Linked DNA regions of Homo sapiens. The protein of the gene in region 3 purifies or fractionates together with the protein of the main gene of each other region. This does not show direct contact. Each region holds a gene or a part of one and is shown on either strand. Other genes may lie near its edges.

The links.
Region 1: the proteins of DCP1B (region 3) and DDX6 purify together in Homo sapiens (affinity purification with mass spectrometry; 8 studies listed by BioGRID and IntAct, with this or other methods). This does not show direct contact.
Region 2: the proteins of DCP1B (region 3) and ATXN2 purify together in Homo sapiens (affinity purification with mass spectrometry; 2 studies listed by BioGRID and IntAct, with this or other methods). This does not show direct contact.

The regions. Positions count from the first base shown.
Region 1 is NC_000011.10:118,788,088-118,795,339, forward strand, and holds the start of DDX6 (probable ATP-dependent RNA helicase DDX6), read right to left. Parts: upstream 3,078-7,252; 5' UTR 3,011-3,077; intron 2,856-3,010; exon of another isoform or gene 2,768-2,855; intron 1-2,767.
Region 2 is NC_000012.12:111,596,254-111,603,516, forward strand, and holds the start of ATXN2 (ataxin-2), read right to left. Parts: upstream 3,063-7,263; 5' UTR 2,782-3,062; coding exon 2,531-2,781; intron 1-2,530. UniProt on the Homo sapiens protein: Involved in EGFR trafficking, acting as negative regulator of endocytic EGFR internalization at the plasma membrane.
Region 3 is NC_000012.12:1,994,361-2,001,467, forward strand, and holds part of DCP1B (mRNA-decapping enzyme 1B), read right to left. Parts: intron 3,616-7,107; coding exon 3,575-3,615; intron 1-3,574. UniProt on the Homo sapiens protein: May play a role in the degradation of mRNAs, both in normal mRNA turnover and in nonsense-mediated mRNA decay. May remove the 7-methyl guanine cap structure from mRNA molecules, yielding a 5'-phosphorylated mRNA fragment and 7m-GDP.

The DNA.
Region 1 (7,252 bases), on a different chromosome or scaffold from region 3:
ATCACCTGAGGTCAGGAGTTCAAGACCACCTGACCAACACGGTGAAACTCCGTTCCACTAAAATACAAAAATTAACTGGGCGTGGTGGCCCTGTAATCTCAGCTACTTAGGAGGCTGAGGCAGCAGAATCACTTGAACCCAGGAGGTGGAGGCTGCAGTGAGTCCAGATCATGCCATTGTACTCCAGCCTGGGCAACAAGAGCAATACTCTGACTTAAAAACAAACAAAGCAAACAAACAAACAAAACCCACAAAACTAGTCAACCTCAGTTTAAAATTATCCCGTAAATGGAAATCTTACTTACTTTTATTTTTTATTGTATTTTTTGAGACAGAATCTTGCACTGTCACCCAGGCTGGAGTGCAATGGCGCGCTCTCAGCTCACTGCAAGCTCCGCCTCCTGGGTTCACGCCATTCTCCTGCCTCAGCCTCCTGAGTAGCTGGGATTACGGGCATGCGCCACCATGCCCAGCTAATTTTTGTATTTTTAGTAAAGACGGGGTTTCGACATGTTGGCCAGGCTGGTCTTGAACAACTGAGCTCAGGTGATCCGCCCGCCTCGGCCTCCCAAAGTGCTGGGATTACAGACGTAAGCCACCACGCCCGGCCTATTATTTTTGAGACAGAGTCTCACTCTGTTGCCCAGAGTGGAGTGCAGTAGCCCGATCTCAGCTCACTGCAACCTCCACCACGCAGGTTCAAGCGATCCTCATGCCTTAGCCTCCCAAGTAGCTTGGTGGGATTACAGGTCTGGCTAATTTCTGTATTTTTCAGTAGACACGGGGTGTTATCAAGTTGGCCAGGCTGGTCTTGGACTCCTAACCTCAAATGATCTGCCCGCCTTAGCCTCCTAAAGTGCTAGGATTACAGGCGAGAGCCACCGTGCCCGGCTGAAATCTTACTTTTAATTGGAGTTAATAAAAACATACAAAGACACGAAAACAAAGCCCTACTCTGTTGGCTTTTGATTTAACCCCGTTACACTTTTTTTTTTTTTTTTTTTTTGAGGCGGAGTCTCGCTCTGCCGCCCAGGTTGGAGTGCAGTGGCACAATCTTGGCTCACTGCAACCGCCGCCTCCTGGGTTCAAGCGATTCCCCTGTCTCAGCCTCCCGAGTAGCTGGGATTACAGGCGCCTGCCACCACGCGCAGCTAAATTTTTTCTATTTTTAGTAGAGACGGGGTTTTGCCATGTTGGCCAGGCTAGTATCGAACTCCTGACCTCAGCTGATCCGCCTGTCTTGGCCTCCCAAAGTGCTGGGATTACAGGTGTGAGCCACCGCTCCCAGCAACCCCGTTACATTTCTTATATAAAATACACTAGCTTACGAGTGCTGATTCTTTCTGCCATACACCAAGGCATGTGAAACTCAAAATTTTAAAGTCAACAGATCTCAACATTTATGAAGAAAATGCTCCTTGATTATGCCTTCCTTAAAAAAAAAATGAACAAGTTGCTCACAAGCAAATCCTGATTATCACATACACAAAGCTGTTTACTTCAGACTCTGACCTCTTAAGCAGATATGGTTAACAGCTACTTTCCTGTATTGACGGTTTTATATTATGATCAGCGATATCACGCAGTTCACAGAGACTTAGCTGTTTGCAGAGCACTAAGAGGATGAAAAGGGCAACCTCTAAAGACCGAACGATATCATCATTACTGTCCATCATGCACAGTAAGACCTCCTATATCCTTAAATCCAAAATGAGACTATGTGATAACTGCTCCCTTCTTAAACTGAAACCTGCACTGCAGCTTTTTCTCAGAGAAGGAAATATTCCTCCTACCCCTTCCCAATTTAGATTTGCAAGTTTTCTACATTTTCAAAAACAAAAAACAAAAAAACAAAAAACAAACAACAAGAAACGTAGACTAGTTGGGAGGAGCCCCTAGCGGAGTTAATTACAGCACTTCACAGATCGTAGTTAGCAATTGACAGTTTCACACCCAAAACAGTATCGTCATCGCCAACAAGAGCTTTTGTTTGCAAATGCAGCGCAGTTTTTCTAGCTTTGCCTGCAAGTTGGAGTGACTGGGTTTTATTCTGAAGGGAAATGGGGGCTGAGGAAGAGAAAGGAGAGAGATACGGGAAAGAGTCATTGACTAATGACTGGAACCCCGTAACTGAAAGGAAATTTCTTGTCCCCCCGCACCCCGCCCCACGCCCCAAACACACACACTTCTGACCATAAACACAAAAGGTTGGGGCTCTGCAATCTTATCTGCGCAATATGAGCCAGCAACCGCTCCATTAGTAGCAAACAATAGGGACTCCCCCAAGGAGGCCCCAAATGGACCCCCTAAACCAGAAATCCCCCTCCTTTCCTCCAAGAGTCGGGGGCTCCATAAATACCCTCTTGTTATTGACCCGCAAGGCCTACTGCAATCAAGCAGCGGCCGGTTTGCTTCTAAACCGAGCCCTCCAATACAGCATGTCCCTGCCGCCCCCTATAGGGCCGCCTCGTACCCTATAACCTCCACCATCATCCCCCTAAGTCCTTGCCGCCCCCTTCGGCCTCATATTCCCTCATCTTCGATAAAGCTACTCCGAGTACTTAGCCTGTTCCTCCTGCCGACCCTGCTGCGCACCACATTCCTATATTCGCCTCCTCTCAGGCGCTCCCACCCCACACAGCTGCCGACCGCCTTCCTCCCCAGGCCCGGCCAGGCCTTAGGCCTCCGCCCGAGAGTCCCCCAGAGCCGGCCCGGGGGGCTCCCCACAGCCCCCAAAGCACCGCTGACCTCGACCCCACCACCTCACCCCAAGCCTCGCGACTCGGGCCCGTGTCCTACCAACGAGGCCACTCCCGCTCGGCACCCTCGGTCCTTTATTGTTGACTCGAAGCTCCCAAAATGGCGGACGCTCCTTCCTCCTCGGAAACCTCCGCCCGCCCCCACCCAGCCCTCTCGCTACGGCCTCCTCTCGCCCCCGCCCCCGCCCCGCTCCGAGGGGCGCGCAGGCCAGCCGCCCGAGCCGCCGGCTCCCCCGGCTGTCCAGCCCTACCTCCTCCGCTGCCCGCTCTCGTGGCGCCGCCGAAGTCGCCGCCTGGCTGAGCTAACTCGGCTCCTCTGCCCCCTCCCTCGCTCGCCCGTTCGCCCGCCCGCCGCCTCCTCCCTCTTTCCCTGCCTCTCCGCATGGCGGCGACCGCGGCTCCTCCTCCACTCAAGATGGCGAAACCTCGGCCGCCGCGGCTATATTCGCCGCGGCGTCACTGCCTTCCTGGCCTGGTGGTGAGAGGAAGTCGGGCCGCGAAAGCTTCCTGAGGAGAAAATGGAGGGCCCTTCTCTCACACCGACGAGAAAAGTTCGAGGGGGAAATACGAGTTCCTTTCTGAAGGGACAGGACGGCTGCTTTTCCACAGCCGCGACGTGATTGAGAAATGGTGGCTGGCAAGGGTAGGCCTGCCTTCGCCCCTCCAAAGTAAAAATCGGGAGTTGAGACCAGAGGAACATCTCTTTATTACATGACTAAGGATATGTTTTGAAAACTGGCCCCCGGGCAGCTGCTCGGGGACAGGAAGCTGACCTGACTTCTCCAGCTGGCCGGGGAGGCTGATGCCGGGCCTAAGGGGCCGCGTCCGAGCCTCTCGGGGCGCGCCTCCATGCAGGAAGGCGCGGAACTAGCGACCCGGAGACGCCGGGCGCGCGTCTGAGTGTGGGGGCAGGAAGGGGGGCCGACCGGGCCCGGAGGCCGCACCAGGCAGGAGGGAGGACTCCAGAGAGTGCGCGGGGGGCGCTGCGCGGTGGGACGGGGCGAGCCTGTAGGGCGCGCCTGGCGGCGGGTAGGCTCCGGGCTTGAGGGTGCGCCTGGGGGCGCTGGTTGTGGGGGAAGGCACCGGGCTTGAGGGTGCACCTGGGCGGGGGAAGTCTTCGGGCATGAGGGCGCGCCTGCGGGTGGTATGGGGGGGTACACCGAGCTTGAGGGTGCGCCCGGGGGGCTCTCATGTGAAGGGTACCAGGCTTGAGGGCGCCCCTGCGGGGGGCGCAGAGGCACCGAGCTTGAGGGTGCGCCTCGGGGGTCTGCGGGGGGAAGGCACCGGACTTGAGCGTGCGCCGGGAGAGGACGGCGGGGGACCGGACTGTGAGGGCGTATCTTGGGGGACCTGTCTAGGAGGAACCGGGAGGTGAAGGCACAACTGGGGGTGAGGCGGGGGCAGGGGCCGGGCTGTGAGAGTGCGACTGAGGGGGGATTACTCCGGAGAGCACGGAGCTGGGGGCGTTGCGCAGGTGGAGTGGGGAGGCCTGGTGGAGAGGGTAGCAAACCGAGAGAGCGCACCGGGGTGGTGGGGGGAGAAGCTGGACTGTAAGGTGAAGAGTTAGTAGGGCGCAACCGTCTTCTCCTGCCCTCGAAGGGCAAGACTGAAGAAAGTAGGGGCGGAGGAGGCCGGGCCCTCCACTAAAGGGAGGGAAGCTAGTGAAGCGTCAGTTATAATAGAAATAGGAATTCAGTAAGGAAATGGAGAAGCTTAAGGCAAAGGGTGACTCTCCGGCCTGACCCTCACTATGAAGATATTTATGTATGTTCCCATAATACTTTTCAGATCCCAATGTCTGTGTTTATCCTTGACAGAAATAATAGAACTGCTGTCTTCTTCCAAGTTAAACAAAACTTTGGAGCTAAAAGCTAGCTAGGTCAAGAGAAACAAAATCTAATCCTCACCCAATTGAGAGACTGAATATACAAAGAATGGCCAAACCTAACCATGACCTCCTACCCATAACCTCTTCAGTAATCGGCCAGAAGGGTCAGGACTTAATCTTTAACCGGCAGCTTCCCTATTTCTTGCCCCTGCTTCCAGCTCTGGGCCAATCAGAGAAAGCCAAATGTGCTCCTCACACCAATCGCGTAAGAAGCCCTGCTTCTAGTATAGCCCTCCTCCAACTTCCCGATGCCAACATCCTCCAATCAGAGCCAACCTGAAGTTTCTCCCTTTTTTCAGTATATGTAAAGCTTTTCCACTCCCCTGCCTGCCTATGAGTCTGTTAAATCAAGTGATGGGTCGCGGCTGACTCTTGCCAGCTCTGAGTAAATAGCCTATTCTCATTTGGTGGTCGTTATTTCTACACAGCCGGTGGGAAGGTGGTGGAGAATAGTGAAGACTATTCTTAAGGTTAAAAAGAAGGTTCGGCTTACATTTTTTTTTTATTTTAAATTTACAGCATGGCGTCTCCAGCCCAGGTTTTAAAATACCTTCTAATGTAAGGAAATAGCCCTGCACCTTGTGCCCATCCTAGAGAGAAAATGGTTTCTTAATAAAAAATGTATGAGGCCTTTTTTGCCCCAATATCTTCCCAAGCAGAGGAATGTGAAGGGGGGTTGGGCCAAGAAGTGAGTGGTAGGAAGAGAGGCCTACGGATTTAAAACAGGCCACTGCTTGGAGGGGTGTCTTTCCTAAACCACTGAAGAAATTGAACCAGGCAAAGGAAGGGGGTTCACACCCACAAATAAACTATAACCTACAAAAGGAGCCCGGGTTCACATCCACAAATAAATTGTAACCTACACAAGGAGTCTGGTTGAGGTCACAAAACAAAAGCCAGGAGGCAACCAAAAGTAGAATATGAAATAGGTGCTGCCTTCTCACCTAGGAATCCTTCCAGGGCTAAAACCTTCAAATATTCTGCTTTTAAGGTAGTCAGATACCCTCACAACTCATTTACATCAGCCCTTCTCTGTTTTCAAGTGAGAAGCATAGATGGTTTAGAATTAAGCTATGAACTCTTGGATCTTTTCTTCCAAGTTTAGTGTTAGTGGTAGATAGGTCTAGTCCAACTATCTCAATACATTGTTTTCTCCCTAGTTAAAACAGATTTGCAAGAATCATTTGTATGACACTTTAGGAATACAGATAAATTGCTAGTGCAAATAATATCCTTATATTTATAAAATATATGTGTACTTTTAAAAAAGTTATATGAATCCAATCCTCTGGCCTTTTAGTTAGTATTGAGTGTGATAGTTGTGGGAGATCTGTAGTAAATACGGTTTCTGAAGGGTGTGCTATCATCCCTAATGAACTCACCTATTAATTGTGGTAAAGAGTTTTTCACTTGGGCTGGGCACGGTGGCTCACGCCTGTAATCCCAGCACTTTGGGAGGCCGAGGCAGGTGGGTCGACTGAGGTCAGGAGTTCCAGACCAGCCTAGCCAACATGGTGAAACCCCGTCTGTACTAAAAAAAAAAAAAAGAAAAAAAATAGCTGGGCATGGTGGCAGGTGCCTGTAATCCCAGCTACTTGGGAGGCTGAGGCAGGAGAATCCCTTGAACCTGGGGAGGCGGAGGTTGCAGTGAGCCAAGATCGTGCCATTGCACTCCAGCCTGGGCAACAAGAGCAAAACTCCGTCTCAAAAAAAAAAAAAAAAAGAAAAAGAAAAAGAAATGAAAAAAAAAGTTTCCCAACATGTATTAGCCGTTTTCATGTTGTCTGTATTCACCTTTGCGTCATCACCCCTCTTCAATTTCCTCCTGGAATTCAATCACAGTAATGGGTTATCTCAGCATATATTATTCGCCAGTCTCACATCCTGACCTCATTTATTTACCTAAAAATAACCAGAACGAAAAAAAAATCACAGATTAATTTACACTTGATTTCACTTTAACTTCAATTTAAAATACTTAGAATCCAGAATTCCTAGTAAGTTGAACCTGGAATACGCAGACCTGTGATAATATCTTAAACACTCAAATGTTTTCAACTTGCTGAAATGGAGTTCACACTTTTAACATTCTGGGCTTTTTTTTTAAAAGGGACTATAATACTTTAACTCAAATTACAATCAAATGTGTTCATTACCTATAAGAAAAAAATTTTACCTATCTCATATCTTCAGTGAAATGATTATATCACATCTGGCTAAGCTTTACCATTTGGTATTTGCCCTCTTTCAAGTGATTTGCAGTATAATACTTTGATTTCCCAAAATTTCAACATACAAAGTTATTTTCCAAATATGCTCAAGCAACATCTGATCATCACTAACAAGACTAAAGGCTAATATGCCCAAGGAGCCAAGTCCCGTTTTCTTGGGACTTCATAGCAGGTAAAAATTGCCTTTTCAATTTATACACCTGAAGAAAGTGAAGCAGCATCAGTCACTGAGGGCTTAGTAGAGATGTCCTCAGAGAGGTGCACATACTGCGCTGAAGTTGATGCATACTAAGCAGGCGTGCTTAATCACTGAGAGGTTACATCAGGCACATTTTGTTGGAATAAATGTTCCAACCCCTGAGTAAACTCAAATT
Region 2 (7,263 bases), about 110 Mb from region 3:
ATTACAGTAAAATTATGTTCTAATATTGTGATTACATTATCTTTCCTAAAACAGCCACCTTCAAAAATATATATAACAAAGAACAAAATAAATCACTTCTGAAAGTCATGAAAAACTATTCACACACACACACACAAAGTCAAATTATGAAATGTTTCTTAAAGCAGATGTGAATTTCCAGACTTTCAAGCATATTTTGCTATCTCGAAACTTGTCAAACCGAATGCTGCATTTTTTTTCACCCTTGCTCTCAGAGACTTATTTTCACTGTTGATACGCACAAACCTAAGTGAGGAGATTCTAGAAGCTGAAACTTATTTACAAGGAATGCAGGAAAGTGATTCAAATTCAAAGTAATTCTACAAGTACATTAACGATCTGTTCAAGAATAAAACTTCACATTACACAAATCCAACACAGTAAACAAAATTTCACCTATTCATCAGAAAGAATAAGGGCTGCCATTTAGGTCTCAAGTAAAAGAACTTAAAGCAAGGAAAAATCTAAATTAACCTTAAATTGTTGTAAAGCCTCAAGGAACAGAAAAAAGACCTTGTGGTACTAAAACATTCCAAATATCTTTGATCACTCAAACTACTCAGGAGCAAATTCTCTTATAATCTAATTTTTAAGCCTAGTAGTCAATGCAACTTAATAACCTTAGTTTTAATGTTTATATATTTGAACATGTTGAATTATCTGCCAAATCTCTTCCTAATACCTAAGAAAGTAAAAACAGAATACATCCTTTTCTATAAAAGTTGTATTTTAAATTTTTTCATTTTTCGCTAGATGCCAACGAAAAAGGGAAACTGAAGTTACCCTACTTGGGGAAACGATCACTTCATCTGAACTAGTTTGGCTAAGTAGTGTTTGGGATGCTTCAGACTCAGAGAAGGGGAAGGGGGGGCGGGGCGTGTAAAGTCAAATAACCGACTGTTTCCGCCCCCTTTGAAGGCAGCAGAATTCCTTAAAAACCAGCTGATTCCTCTTGATGGGGAATTTCTGCTGTAAATAAAAATTCTTTGGAAATGGGTTGCTGAAAATGTGTTTTCAAAAAGAAAACTCGGGTGAATGAAAAATCCTCTTATTCCACCTTCCAAAGCCCAAGATGCCTATTTAAGGAGGACGCCGGTCACCCGCCGTCAAGCCGGCGGCCTAGGCCTAAAGAAGGCACAGTAGTGCCTACAACACGGATGGACTTGAGGCACAAGGGAAATGGACTTGCGTGCCCTTGGTAAGCTCTGGCGGCACTCCCGAAGTTAAGGACACCGGCCACAATGGAATGGAGTCTATTGACGTTTCCTTCTCCCTTTGAACACTAAGCATTTTCTTAGTTCGTGAAATACGAACTGACAACCGCCCGCCACCCCCAACAGGCCCTCCTGCACAAACACACCCTCGAGTCAAACCCAGTTAGCCGGGACAACACTGAGCCCCCAGCCCCTACTACAACCCCGGCTTAGGAGGGAAAAAGACGCTAGTAAACACCCGCCTTTCTGCCTTCAGGAACCCGACCACGTCCCCTGCTGCAATCTCTCTCTCCTAGCATTTCCGAAATTGGGGCGGGGGTTGGGATAAGTGCGCAGGGTGCCCGCCCCCTGCCACCAGCACCGCCACCCCGGATCTCCAGGGTCCAGCCTGGGTCCAGCCCTCACCCACCGATGTTCCACAGGCGCCTTCTCCACTGCGGCCTCGAACAGCAATGCGGATCGGCCACCACCCGCGCGCCGGAGAGGTCTGGCGGGGGAAGGAGGAAGGCCGGGACGGGGCCGGGCACTCCCCACCCCTTCCCTTCCCCAGGTGGGGGAGGGTGGAACGCTGCCGGAGGCCACATGGAGCCCCACGATTTCAGGGGAGTTCGGGAGCCCCCGCCGCCGCCTCGGACACGAACGCAGAGGGGTGCGGGGGCCAAGGCCCACTTGTCTCCACCCCGTCCTCCGATCTTTCCCAGGACTCGGAGGGGGCGGGGAGAGAGCCCCGACAGACCCTGATGATTCCGGAGGAGCCCGGTGCCTACCCCTTTAACCGGCACGGGGGACGCGGCCCTAACTTCTCCCCTCCAGAGATGTCCCCCATGGAGGGGGACATGTTCCGGAAAACGCCACCACAGCCTCCAGACCCCTCCAACGTTCACACCTAAACCGGGAGTGGAGGAGCTGCCCGAGCATCCCCACGCTGCGGGCGGAGGATCGTGCGGAAGGGGGAGCCGGGGCTGACCATCGCCGCTACCCGAGAACCCCTCCCAACACGCGTGGGGAGGGGAGGCCGCCCGCTCCCTCCATCTTGACCGCCGGGGGAGGGGGCGGGGATGCTGCGGGAGGCTGGACAGGCCTGACAATCCCAGAGGACCCCGGCTGCGCCCACCGGCCGAGCCTCGGGGCTCAGGCCCGAGCGAGTCTCCCCCGCGCTGCCGGCCCCCAGCCCACCCCGGGTAGCCCGGCGGGTCACGGGGCGGGGACGGCGGCGCGGGCCGCGGGGGAGGGGACGCCGGGCCCGGAGCGGAGGGGGCTGGGGTGCCGACACCCACCTGCCCAGGCCGGGCCTCCCGCCGCCGGAGGTCGCCGCGACCACCGAGGAGGGAGCCGTGGCCGAGGACGAGGAGACCGAGGACGAGGACGGCGAAGGCGCGGCGGCGGGCGACGCTAGAAGGCCGCTGCCGCCGGGCTTGCGGACATTGGCAGCCGCGGGCGGCGGCTGCTGCTGCTGCTGCTGCTGCTGCTGTTGCTGCTGCTGCTGCTGCTGCTGCTGCTGCTGCTGCTGCTGGGGCTTCAGCGACATGGTGAGGGGCCCATACACCGGCTCGCACGCCGGGCGGGGACAGCCGGGAGCCGGGCGCGCCAAGGAGACGCCGGAACGCGGCGGGGACGCGCGGGCGCCGAGCGGGGAGGCGCGGGTTGGCGCGGCCGGAGGGGCGCCCGGGCTGGCGAGGGGGAGAAGGAGGACGACGAAGGGGCGGGGAGGCCCGCCGAGACCAAGGAGCCGCCGGGAGCCGGGCCGAAACGCGCCGCCGCCGTTGCCGTTGCTACCAAAACAGTCTGAGGCGGAGGGAGGCGAGCTCTGCCGGGAGGGAGGGGGGCCGGGGCCGGGCGGGGGAGGGGCGGCGGAGGGATACGGTCCCGGGGCCGCGCCACCGCCGCCCCGCCCGCTCCGCCGCGCCGGCCGCTGGAGCGAGCGCCACCCGGGCCACCTGGCTGCGGCGAAGCGGCGAGACTCGGTGGCCACCGCGGGACTCCGAGGAGCTGCGGCCGCTGAGCGCATCGGAGGGCGGGCGCGCCGAGGCGCCGGGTGGGAGCGGAGGTGCGGATAGGGACTCTTTACCGGAAGTCGGAGGGGTCAGACGGAAGCAGAACGTGAGGTGGCCCCGGGGCCGGGAGGGACACGTGAGGAGCGGGCGGCGCGCTGGGTTGCTTTCTCGGGGGTCGGGTGAGGGCCAGGCGGCGGTCCCTACCCGGATCCGCCTTCCTCAAGGCGGGTCTGCCCTTCGGGGAGGGCGTGTCGGTCTCAGCCTCTGGGGCCTGCCTGGTGTGGAGGACAGGAGAGAAGCATTTCTTCTCCTACTGTATTCCTTCAGCATCTTCACTTCTGCGGGGACCTAGTTTGCCCCCACCTGATGCAACCCAGAAAATGGACTGACTGCGAGTGCCTTGGGGCGGAGAATGTGTCTTGCTACGTGTAAAGCACCTAGAACCCTGCCAGATTCAGGGGACACAGCATCCTGCCGTTTTCCTGCCGTCCCCCGCCCGCCACACAGTAGGCGCTCCAGTGGCTCGGGGCATCTACCAGGCAGGCCGCGCTGTCCTGCCCTGCCGGGGCTGGAGTGGAGCAACCCTCCGGGGCCACCCACATCTGGGTACCTTTTCCCCACTTTTTCCACCCCAGCCGCGCACAGTCACCAGAAAACTCTTTTAGGTATCTGACCTTCATTTGAACCTATGTTCCCTCACTTGAACTTCTTTTTCCTCATTCATGAGATTCTAAAGGAAATATATGGGATTGGGACTGGTAGAACTACGGATAATGGGATCTCCCTCGGTAGAGACAGAGCCGACCTCAAAACAATGTGCGAACTTTAGACCTTGGACCCTTTAGAAGTTTTAATTTAACTTACCCAGCCAGCACAGTAGACTCTTTTTAAAATGTGTTGCAGTTAAACTGGAAGCAAGTAGAAAGTAGGTAACTTTTTTTTTTTTTTTTGAGCAGTGAATCTATTGTTTTTTAAAGTGAAATGACTTCAGGAAATAATAGGGGAAGAAACACCAAAATTCCCCTCAATGTCCTAGAACTGTCCAGATAAAGGTAAAGACTTAGATAAACGTGGAGAATGATTGAACCAGCAGTTTTCAGTAGTCCAACTGAAATTAACCTCCTAGATAGTCCAGGCAAAAATGATCATTGTATTCTGCCAATGTAGGAAATCAGTTTTATTTCCCATCTAAGGTAAAAAGTAGATCAAGGGACCATTGCAAAACCCTTTAAAAATTAACCTAGCCTAGCCAACATGGTGAAACCCCGTCTCTACCAAAAATATAAAAATTAGCCGGGTGTGGTGGTGGGCGCCTGTAATCCCAGCTACTCGGGAGGCTGATACAGGAGAATTGCTTGAATCCGGGAGGTGGAGGTTGCAGTCAGCCGAGATCATGCACTCCAGCCTGGGCGACAGAGCGAGACTCCGTCTCAAAAAATAAATAAATAAATAAATAAATAAAGTAACCTAAAGGAAACTGGAACTAAAAAACCAGTTGAAACAAAAAAATACCTGTACCCGGCTGTGGTACAGGCCAGGGCTGCTGTGAGGGGAAGCTCCTGGAGAGGGTGACATGGGGCAGGGACCCAAATGAGCATGGGCATGAGGATCCTGGGGAGAAACGCTCCAGGTGGAGGGCACAGCGAGGGCAAAGGCTCTGAGGGGGGAGTCTGAGGAACAGCAAGGAGGCCTGCAATGGAGCAGGTCGTCAATGGTGTCCCGTTATATTCTTTCTTTAATAGAAATACAAACACTTGGCCTGGCGCGGTGGCTCACACCTGTAATCCCAGCACTCTGGGAGGCCGAGGCGGATGGATCACCTGAGGTCAGGAGTTCAAGACCAGCGTGGCCAACATGGTGAAACCCCATCGCTACTAAAAATACGAAAAAATTAGCTGGGCGTGGTGGTGGGCATCTGTGATCTCAGCTACGCAGGATGCTGAGGCAGGAGAATCGCTTGAACCCAGGAGGCGGAGGTTACAGTGACCAAAGAGGGCACCACTGCACTCCAGCCTGGGCAACAAGAGCGAAACTTTATCTAAAAAAAATAAAAATAAAAAAATACAATCACTTTTCTCTGATTGGAATCAAGGTCCCAGAATACAATCTTAAGAACAAGTTTTGGCCAGTGTGGTGGCTCACGCCTGTAATCCCAGCACTTTGGGAGGCAGTGGCCGGTGGATCACCTGAGGTCAGGAGTTCGAGACCAGCCTGGCCAATTTTTAGTAGAGCCCATCTCTACTAAAAATACAAAAATTAGCTGGGTGTGGTGATGCGCACCTGTAGTCCCAGCTACTTGGGAGGCTGAGGCAGGAGAATGGTGTGAACCTGGGAGGCGGTGCTTGCAGTGAGCGGAGATCACACCACTGCACTCCAGCCTGGGCGACAGAGCGAGACTCCGTCTCAAAAAAAAAATAGTAAGTTTCAGGTCGATGGAAGTTGAATAAGAAGGCCTAGGCTGGATACAGTGGCCTACACCTATAATCCCAGCACTTTGGAAGGCCAAGGCAGGCAGATCCTTTGAACCAAGGAGTAGGAGACCAGCCTGGGCAACATAGTGAGACCCTCCTCTCCATAAAAAATTTTTCAAAATTAAAAAAAAAGAAGGCCTGAAGCTGACATAGCTGAGAAAGTTTGTTTTAACTCACTACCATTGAATAAAAACTTAATAGTTTTATCAAGATATAATTTACATACTATGAAATTCACCTATTTTGTGTACAATTTAATGATTCTCAGTAAATTTACACAGTAAATTTGCACAACCATTGCCACTAATTTCAGAACATTTCCATTACCCCAAAAAGATCCTTCACGATGGTGGGCAGTTTGGTTCCCATCCTTAGCCCCAGGCAACCACTCATCTACATTTTCTCTCTATGGATTTGTCCAGATTTTTCACATAAGTAGAATCTTACAGCATGCAGCCTTTTGTGTCTGCCTTCTTTCATTTGTCATAATGTTTTTGAGGTTTATCTAAGGTTGTGGCATGTAGCAGTATTTCATTCCTTATTATTGCTATGTCATATTCCATGTATGGACATACCACATTTTGTGTCTACTTTCCAATTGTGGATGTTTAGATTGTGTCAACTTTTTGAGTATTATGAAAATGCTGCTGGGGCTGAGATTGGTGGCTCACTCCTGTAATCCCAACACTTTAGGATACCGAGATGGGAGGATCACTTGAATACCCCGGAGTTTGAAACCAGCCTGGGCAACATAGAGAGACCCTGTCTCTATGAAAAACTTTAAAAATAAAAAATTAGCTGGTTGGCTGGGCGTGGTGGCTCATGCCTATAATCCCAGCACTTTGGGAGGCCGAGGTGGGTGGATCACCTGAGATCAGGAGTTCGAGACCAGCCTGGCCTACATGGTGAAATCCCGTCTCTACTAAAAATACAAAAAATTAGCCAGGCGTGGTGGCGGGCACCTGTAATCTCAGCTACTTGGGAGGCTGAGGCAGGAGAATTGCTTGAACCCAGGAGGCGGAGGTTACAGTGAGCCGAGATTGCACCATTGCACTGAAGCCTGGGTGACACAGCAATACTCTGTCTCCAAAAAAAAAAAAAAAAAAAAATTAGCTGGTCATGGTGACACGCACCTATAGTCCCAGCTACTAGGGAGGCTGAAGCAGAAGGACCGCTTGAGCCCAGGAGATCGAGGTTGCTGTGAGCTACGAATGCGCCACTGCACTCTAGCCTGGGCAACAGACCAAGACCCTGTCTCGTTCAGTTAATAGAGTTGCTAAAACACACACACACACACACAAAGAAGAAGAAAGAAAAATAATAATGCTGCTATGAACATTTGTGAACATATATCTTCATGTGGATATATGTTTTCATTTATCTTGGGTTGGTTCCTACAAACGAAATTGTTGGGTGATGTGGTAAGTTTATTTAGTTATTTTTATTTTATTTATTTATTTATGGAAACTACCTTTTCTCTGGACTTCAGAAGGCTTAAGCTTTATATGAAAATATCAGAGTAGGCTGGGCACGGTGGCTCATGCC
Region 3 (7,107 bases):
ATTTTACCTCTATTTGATACTGATCAAGGAACACAGCTACATAACCACTACCAGGATTTTCTTCTGAAACCTCCAATTTTAAAATTGATGGGAGGCAATCCTTGCCTAGCTTATTTTACAAAGGGGTAAAGTGGTGGTAAGCATACAATCAATACCAGAAATAATCATGATCATCACTTCAACTTAAATTCAGAGGAAGAATGAAAATGTACTCCCAAAGAGCTCTGTTAGGGGTCTTCTGGAACTGTCAAGTTCAGAAATCACCAGTGGGTGTCTCTATGAACTCTCTATTACAGAAAGGAAGGCATGGGAGGAAATAAATGATTTTTTAAATGGGATTAAGTGTTTTCATACAAGAATGAGAATTTGATTCTGCATGTATTTCATTATCACAACAGGATCTCACCTCTTTAATAGTACAGCTACTATAGCATCTCATAATTTAGAAAATAGGCCCAGGGGATAAATGTGCCAACTGCTCTAAAGCAACTTCTGTAAGAGAAGTCAAAATAAATCACTGCCAGCTCCATTCCCTGTAACAAGCCTCCCACCCCCCACCCACCATGAGTTTTACATGCTTTTTGTAATTCGCTACTGAAGAAAGCCTTCAACATTCTAGGATCTGGGAGGTTTTTGTTTTGCAGGGGATAAGGGAGGCATCCCATTCTTGAGGAGTTAGATTTGGAGAAAAGACTAAAAAACAGCAAAGGATTTTTTTCTCAATTTAATGTTTTGTTTAATTGAGAGTTCCATTAGAGACTTAGAGTATAGTAAGAAATCCTTGAAAATACAAACTTATATTTGGTCTGGATGTACAAAAGAAAATATTTGTATGATTTGTTCCTCTTCCATAGTTAAAAAAAAACCCTACTAAAAATTCCCCAAATCAATCATTAATACTTACTAATACATCTTTTCTGTCACTTCTCCAAAGAATCATAATGCGTGTTGTGAGAGATGAGTGAGAACGCACCCTGTGTGCATGGCACATAGTACAGTGCAACCCTATGGCTTTTGTTGTAAACTTCAGAATCCTCAAGAGTGCTCATACTCTACCCAATAAACTTGCCTGGGGGCATGCTCTGGTGCTCTGGATGTTTGGGAGCATAATGTAGACTCATATACCAACGGTTCTTGGGTACTCCACTGCTCTTCTGAGACTGTGAAGAACCTGACCTCCTTGTCACCAAGTGTGCTGGCCTTGCCTCCCATTCCTTCCTTCCACCTCCCATTGTTGCCTCCACTGGAACAGACCTTCCTCCCCTGCAGCTGAGCTCCCTCCTGCCCAGCATACACAGACCTCCATCATGCCCACACTTTGCCCCAAATGGGCCTCTCTGTGCTGTTCTAGTCCTGCTTTTATCTTTCCAGCTGACTCATCTGTATCCTTGCTGGCCCTCAAACCTAACCATAAACCCTCATCGGTTCCTCTTTATACTCACTCCTTCAGGGAACAGCTTTTATTTCATGGTTTCAACTACCAAATTACTTCAGACAACTCTAAACCATCTCCAGCCCTGCCCTTACTCTGAGGGGCTGGCCACCTCCACCCAAGTGTCCTGCTACCAGTTCCAAATCATTACTTCAAAGTAAAATGAGGGCTGATCCTCAAGCCACATTCTTGACCTCCTGTCTTTCTTTTCCACCAATGCTTCTGTCATTCTCAATCTTCCATGTTCAAAATATTGTCATTTTTAAAATTTCACCATTGCAATACCCTTTCCATTTCAATTTCTATTATTCTAATCCCAACTCTCATCATTTCATATCTACCCCACTGCAATAATCTTCTCACTGTCCTGACTCCAATTTCTTCCAGAACTAGTGCGTCCCCATGAAGTGAATACACTGACTTTCCCCATACATTTTCTCTATTACTCTCCTGTTCATAAGCCTTCAATAACTTCCTACTGCTAAGAAAATAATCTCAAAATCCAGAGTCTGCCATTCCAAGCTAGCAAATCTCTTTACACTTGCTAACTACTATAAACCAGTATAAGCCCTCTGCACCACATCTCCCTCACTGTCCCTTTAACACACCAGGTTCTCCGCCCCTGCTTTTGCCATTCTTCCTGTTGAGACTGCCTTCCCTCTCCTCTATGCAAGCTAAGTTCCACCATATTCCTGAGGCCCAATTCAAGACACATCACTCTATAAAGCAGGGGTGTCCAATCTTTTGGCCTTCCTGGGACACCTTGGAAAGGGAAGAATTGTCTTGGGCCACACATAAAATACACTAATAATAGCTGATGAGCTAAAAAAAAAAAAAAAAAAAAAAAAAAAAAAAAAAAAAAACAACAAACTCTTCTAATGTTTTAAAGAAGTTTACGAATTTCTGTCAGGCTACATTCAAAGCCATCTTGGGCCACGTGTCCTATGGGCCGTGGGTTGGACAAGCTTGCGATAAAGCCTTCCATGATCACAGCAGCCCATTCATTGCTCAGAATCTATCCACTGGCACTTAGGATACTCTATCCTGTATTGTGGCTTACCATAAACATGAATATATGTGGAAAGAAAATACACTTGTGTGTGTGTATTTCCTGTCTCCCCAGTGAAACAGATACCCCTAGAAAGGTTTATATTAGGTCTTTTAATTTCATCTTTGTACCCTCATTGAAGGTGATGACCTTTGGCTATGACATTTTATGTGAATGTTTATGTGAATGAAAAGTTTATTTATTGAGCCAATATACATAATGTATGTCTCTATATGCACTCGTAATTTGATATTAATATCTGATAACAAGAAATGACTAAAAACATGAGTTTATTAAATCTATCCTGAAACATATTCTATTGACTAGACAATGGAGGACTGAAAGACATCTTCAATTTTGGATCATGCTTTTTTAAAGAGTCAGGGGTGGGAGAAAAGTGATCAACAGCCAGGTGCGGTGGCTCACGCCTGTAATCCCAGCACTTTAGGAGGCCAAGGCGGGTGGATCACGAGGTCAGGAGTTTGAGACCAGCCTGACCAACATGGTGAAACCTCCGTTGCTACTAAAAATTAGCTGGGCGTGGTGGCGCATGCCTGTAATCCCAGCTACTCAGAAGGCTGAGGCAGGAGAATCACTTGAACTCAGGAGGCAGAGGTTGCAGCAAGCCAAGAGCTGTGATCGTGCCACTGCACTCCAGCCTTGGTGACAGAGCGAGACTCCATCTCAAAAAAAAGAAAAATGATCAATGAAACCCTTTTCCAAATATTAACTGAACAATCTAGTATTTCTGATAGTGTTCTTCTAGCTCCTTGCCAATGCATTATATTCAAGAACTTTGTGCCATTCACTTGAATCAAAGAATATTTAATCTATTTTAAACAGTGCCCAGTCAATGATTTAAGTTCATCTACATTGAAGTTTAAATTATATTCTGAAATTAGTATTCATCACGATATACCAGGTGACATTATTTGGTATTCCCTTCTTCGTGTCAACTAATAATTTCAAAACTGAGATTTAATTCTTTTACTTCTTTTTGAAATAAAACTGCATGCACTTGAAGAAGAGTGACACAACGGAGCTAAAATATTATTTTGAAGATTAGTTTCTTTATAAAAGTGAAACACTCTTACCTTGTATAAACAAATAAGGTTCCTTCCACATCAGTTTTCTCCTAAACAATAAAAACAAAACACACAAGACATGTATGTTCTCTTCAATTCACAAAGGTATAAAACAAATTCTCATAGAATAGGAATTATATATAACTTCAATGGGCCAAATATACCCAACATGAGGAGTTATTCTCAGGAAAAGGAGAAAGCAAGTTCTATGTCATCATTGTGCCTCTGCAGATTAGGCAGCAGGAAGCAGTCTTTCTTTTGTCATTTATAAAACAAATCATCATTATCTCTCTTTACCAAATACAGGGATAGCAGCATACCCTTAGCTGAAACAATGAGAAAATAAGTGTGCTATGCGGATTTAATTAGAAAGAAGAGTGCTGCCTTTTTCTCCTTCCACCACACTGGGTATAGAGAAAGCTGCAGACATCACTGGTGTCTGCATTTCACTATCCTTCATTTTGTTTTCTGGGTTCATTTTCTCCTGCCATATCCAGTGACTTAGGAGAGCAGATGATCTGTCAATAACTTTACTTTGACTGCTAGACAGAGAGGGCAATGATGCCACAGAGTTCTCAGATGAATCAATCACCTACTTAGTGTAGTATATTTACAGTCAAGGTCTGACCCGAGATCACTGAAGTAAAGTTACACAAGTATTACCAAGTTAGGACTCAAGAAATCTGCCTGAGAAAATCTGGGAGAGGTGGTAAAGTTAAAATGATGGTTTAACTAGGTCACTTCACATTTCTTTTCCATTTCTCCAAAGGCAGGAAGCTAGGCCATTATAATATTCATCCATATAATGCATACTAAAAAACACACATGTAAGTATCCAGGTGTTTGACTAACCACGAACCAGACCTACTGTAATTCAGAATTTAAAATGTACTTTTGCAATTTACATGGTTTAATTTCAGCATTCTATTTAAACCCCTGATATTTTATTATTAATATTCATCACCATAATCATTCAAAATTTAAGTACTCTGTAATTCTGGTGAAAAATACGCCCTTTTAAAAAAAGCGTAATGTCAAAACAGCAGTTTTTAAAAGGCACACAAGGCATGATCCTTTCACATGCTCAGGCAATTTCAGCAAATTTCTCATTCACTTTAGTTCAGTGGGTCTCAAAGTGTTATCCCCAGATCAGCGGCATCAGCGTCACCTGGGAACTTATTAGAAATGCAAGCTCTTGGGCTCCTGCCCAAACCTACTGAATCAGAAACTCTGGGGATGGTGCTCAGCAATCTGGGTTTTATTAAACTGTCCAGGTGATTCTGATGTATGCTAGTTTGAGAGCCACTCACTGCCTTAGTTCAACAACATACTCTCTGCCCATGAAATTATATTACAAGTCCTGAAAACAAAATCCATTATGGCACAAATCATATCAAGCTATTATCAAGAGTAAATGGCTATAAAAAATCATTACCTAGTAACAAAATATTTAATCTCAAGATGTTTATTATTATGGAATATGAAATTATAAATAAAGAATTTAGACCAGGCACAGTGGCTCATGTCTGTAATCCCAGCACTCTGGGAGGCTGAGGCAGGCAGGAGGATCGCTTGTGGCCAGGAGTTCAGTTTGAGACCAGCCTGGGCAACATAGTGAGACCTTGCCTCTACAAAACAAAAATTTTTTTAATTAGCCAGGTGTGGTGGCACATGCCGGTAGTCTCAGCTACTCAGGAGGCTGAGGAGGGAGGATTGCTTCAGCCCAGGAGTTTGAGGCTACAGTGAGCTATGATTGTACCTCTGCATTCCAGCCTGGGCAACAGAGGGAGACCCTGTTTCTTATAAATAAATAAATAAATAACAATTAAAACAACTTTAGCCAGTTTTTTCCCTAACATAAAAGCATAGGTAAGTCAGGGAGTTCATCCTTAAACTAGATTCACTATGAAGTTTGTATAAATCACCACAACATACTGTGAAACATATCCTTATTTCTGAAATGTGGCTCGTTTGCCCCTGTACTTTGAAAAATATCCAAGTCAAAATGAAAAAATATATATACAGAAACATTACTTATCTTTCTTTGAAAACAAACATGGTTAATTCCTATCTGCTGACAAATGTATATCCTGAGTGTACCTGAAGCACTAAGAATTACTTACACCCAAACCACCAAAGTATTAATCAGGAAAATGGCCCCTACAGTACAGTAAATGCTACCTGAACAGTATACAAATTTTTGGCTGTCCCTAAAGTTTAACTGATTCAGTCAGCAAGTATTCACAAGTCCACAAAGCATTTAAAAATAAATTTGTAGAAAGTATTTGGTATTATCCATTACATTGTTAGGAAACTGAGCCAAGATACAGGTGATAGAACTAGGACTTTGCAGAACCTCTATGTAGTCAGGATCACTCCCCACAAGATCAAAACACTCTCCTGGTCTTCCAGTATCTGACCTTGGACTGTTTCATCTTAGAGATCTGAATAAGGATATCTATATATATCAGCACACATAAAACTAAATAGCTTCTGACTTGTTTCCTTTCTTCCTTGATGTAACAGAAATTCTCTTTTCTTAATTAAAAAAAAAAAACCTTTAATGCCACATTTTAGTTTTTAAATTCCAAGGTCAAAAATGTAAAAGGCATGCTTCTCCTAAAATTAATCTCTAACTTATAACAAGTAATTCTTAAAACTAAGATTTTTATTTAGCATTACACACAAAGAATATGAGTTTGTTCATAGGAAGGAGTTGTGTTTCAGTAATCACAACCTGGGACCTGTAGTGGGGTTCTTGCCAGATCATGCTGGGCTAATTAGTTTATTATTATATGTCTCAGTTTCTCCATTGAAAAGAGATAACCAGGCCGGGCACAGGGGCTCACGCCTGTAACCCCAGCACTTTGGGAGGCCGAGGCGGGTGGATCACCTGAGGTCAGGAGTTCAAGACCAGCCTGGCCAACATGGTGAAACCCCGTCTCTACTAAAAATGCAAAAATTAGCCAGGAGTGGTGGCAGGCGCCTGTAATCCTGGATACTCTGGAGGCTGAGGCAGGAGAATAGCTTGAACCCAGGAGGCAGAGGTTGCAGTGAGCCATGGTCACGCCATTGCACTCCAGCCTGGGGAACAAGAGCGAGACTTCGTCTCAAAAAAAAAAAAAAAAGAGAGATAATCAGCTTACACTACTCAGATCTTTTGATGAAAAAACGTCAGGCGCTCTATGACACCTGGATAAAAGAGACTTTGAAAATATACATTTCTGTTCTATTACAGCTGCCCAAATTCACGCATTTTCCTGGCCCCTCCATAGTTATCCAAGGGCAACCAGATTTTTTTTTTCTTTCTGAGCAAAGTCCAGGGTTAGGGATGTGGAGAATAGCTAAAACAAGATTAGATGTTCCTTAGATCCTTTAAGGAGGACTTTTATGTGAAAGTATTAGTTACCAGTCCTGGGGTATTTTAGCTTAAATTTTAAAAGTACAATTTGAGGATTTAATATTATACTGTATTATAAAATCTAACAAGTGCTAAAGAAATAAGCAATTCAGAATTCAAAATACTAAAAAACCCAAAATGG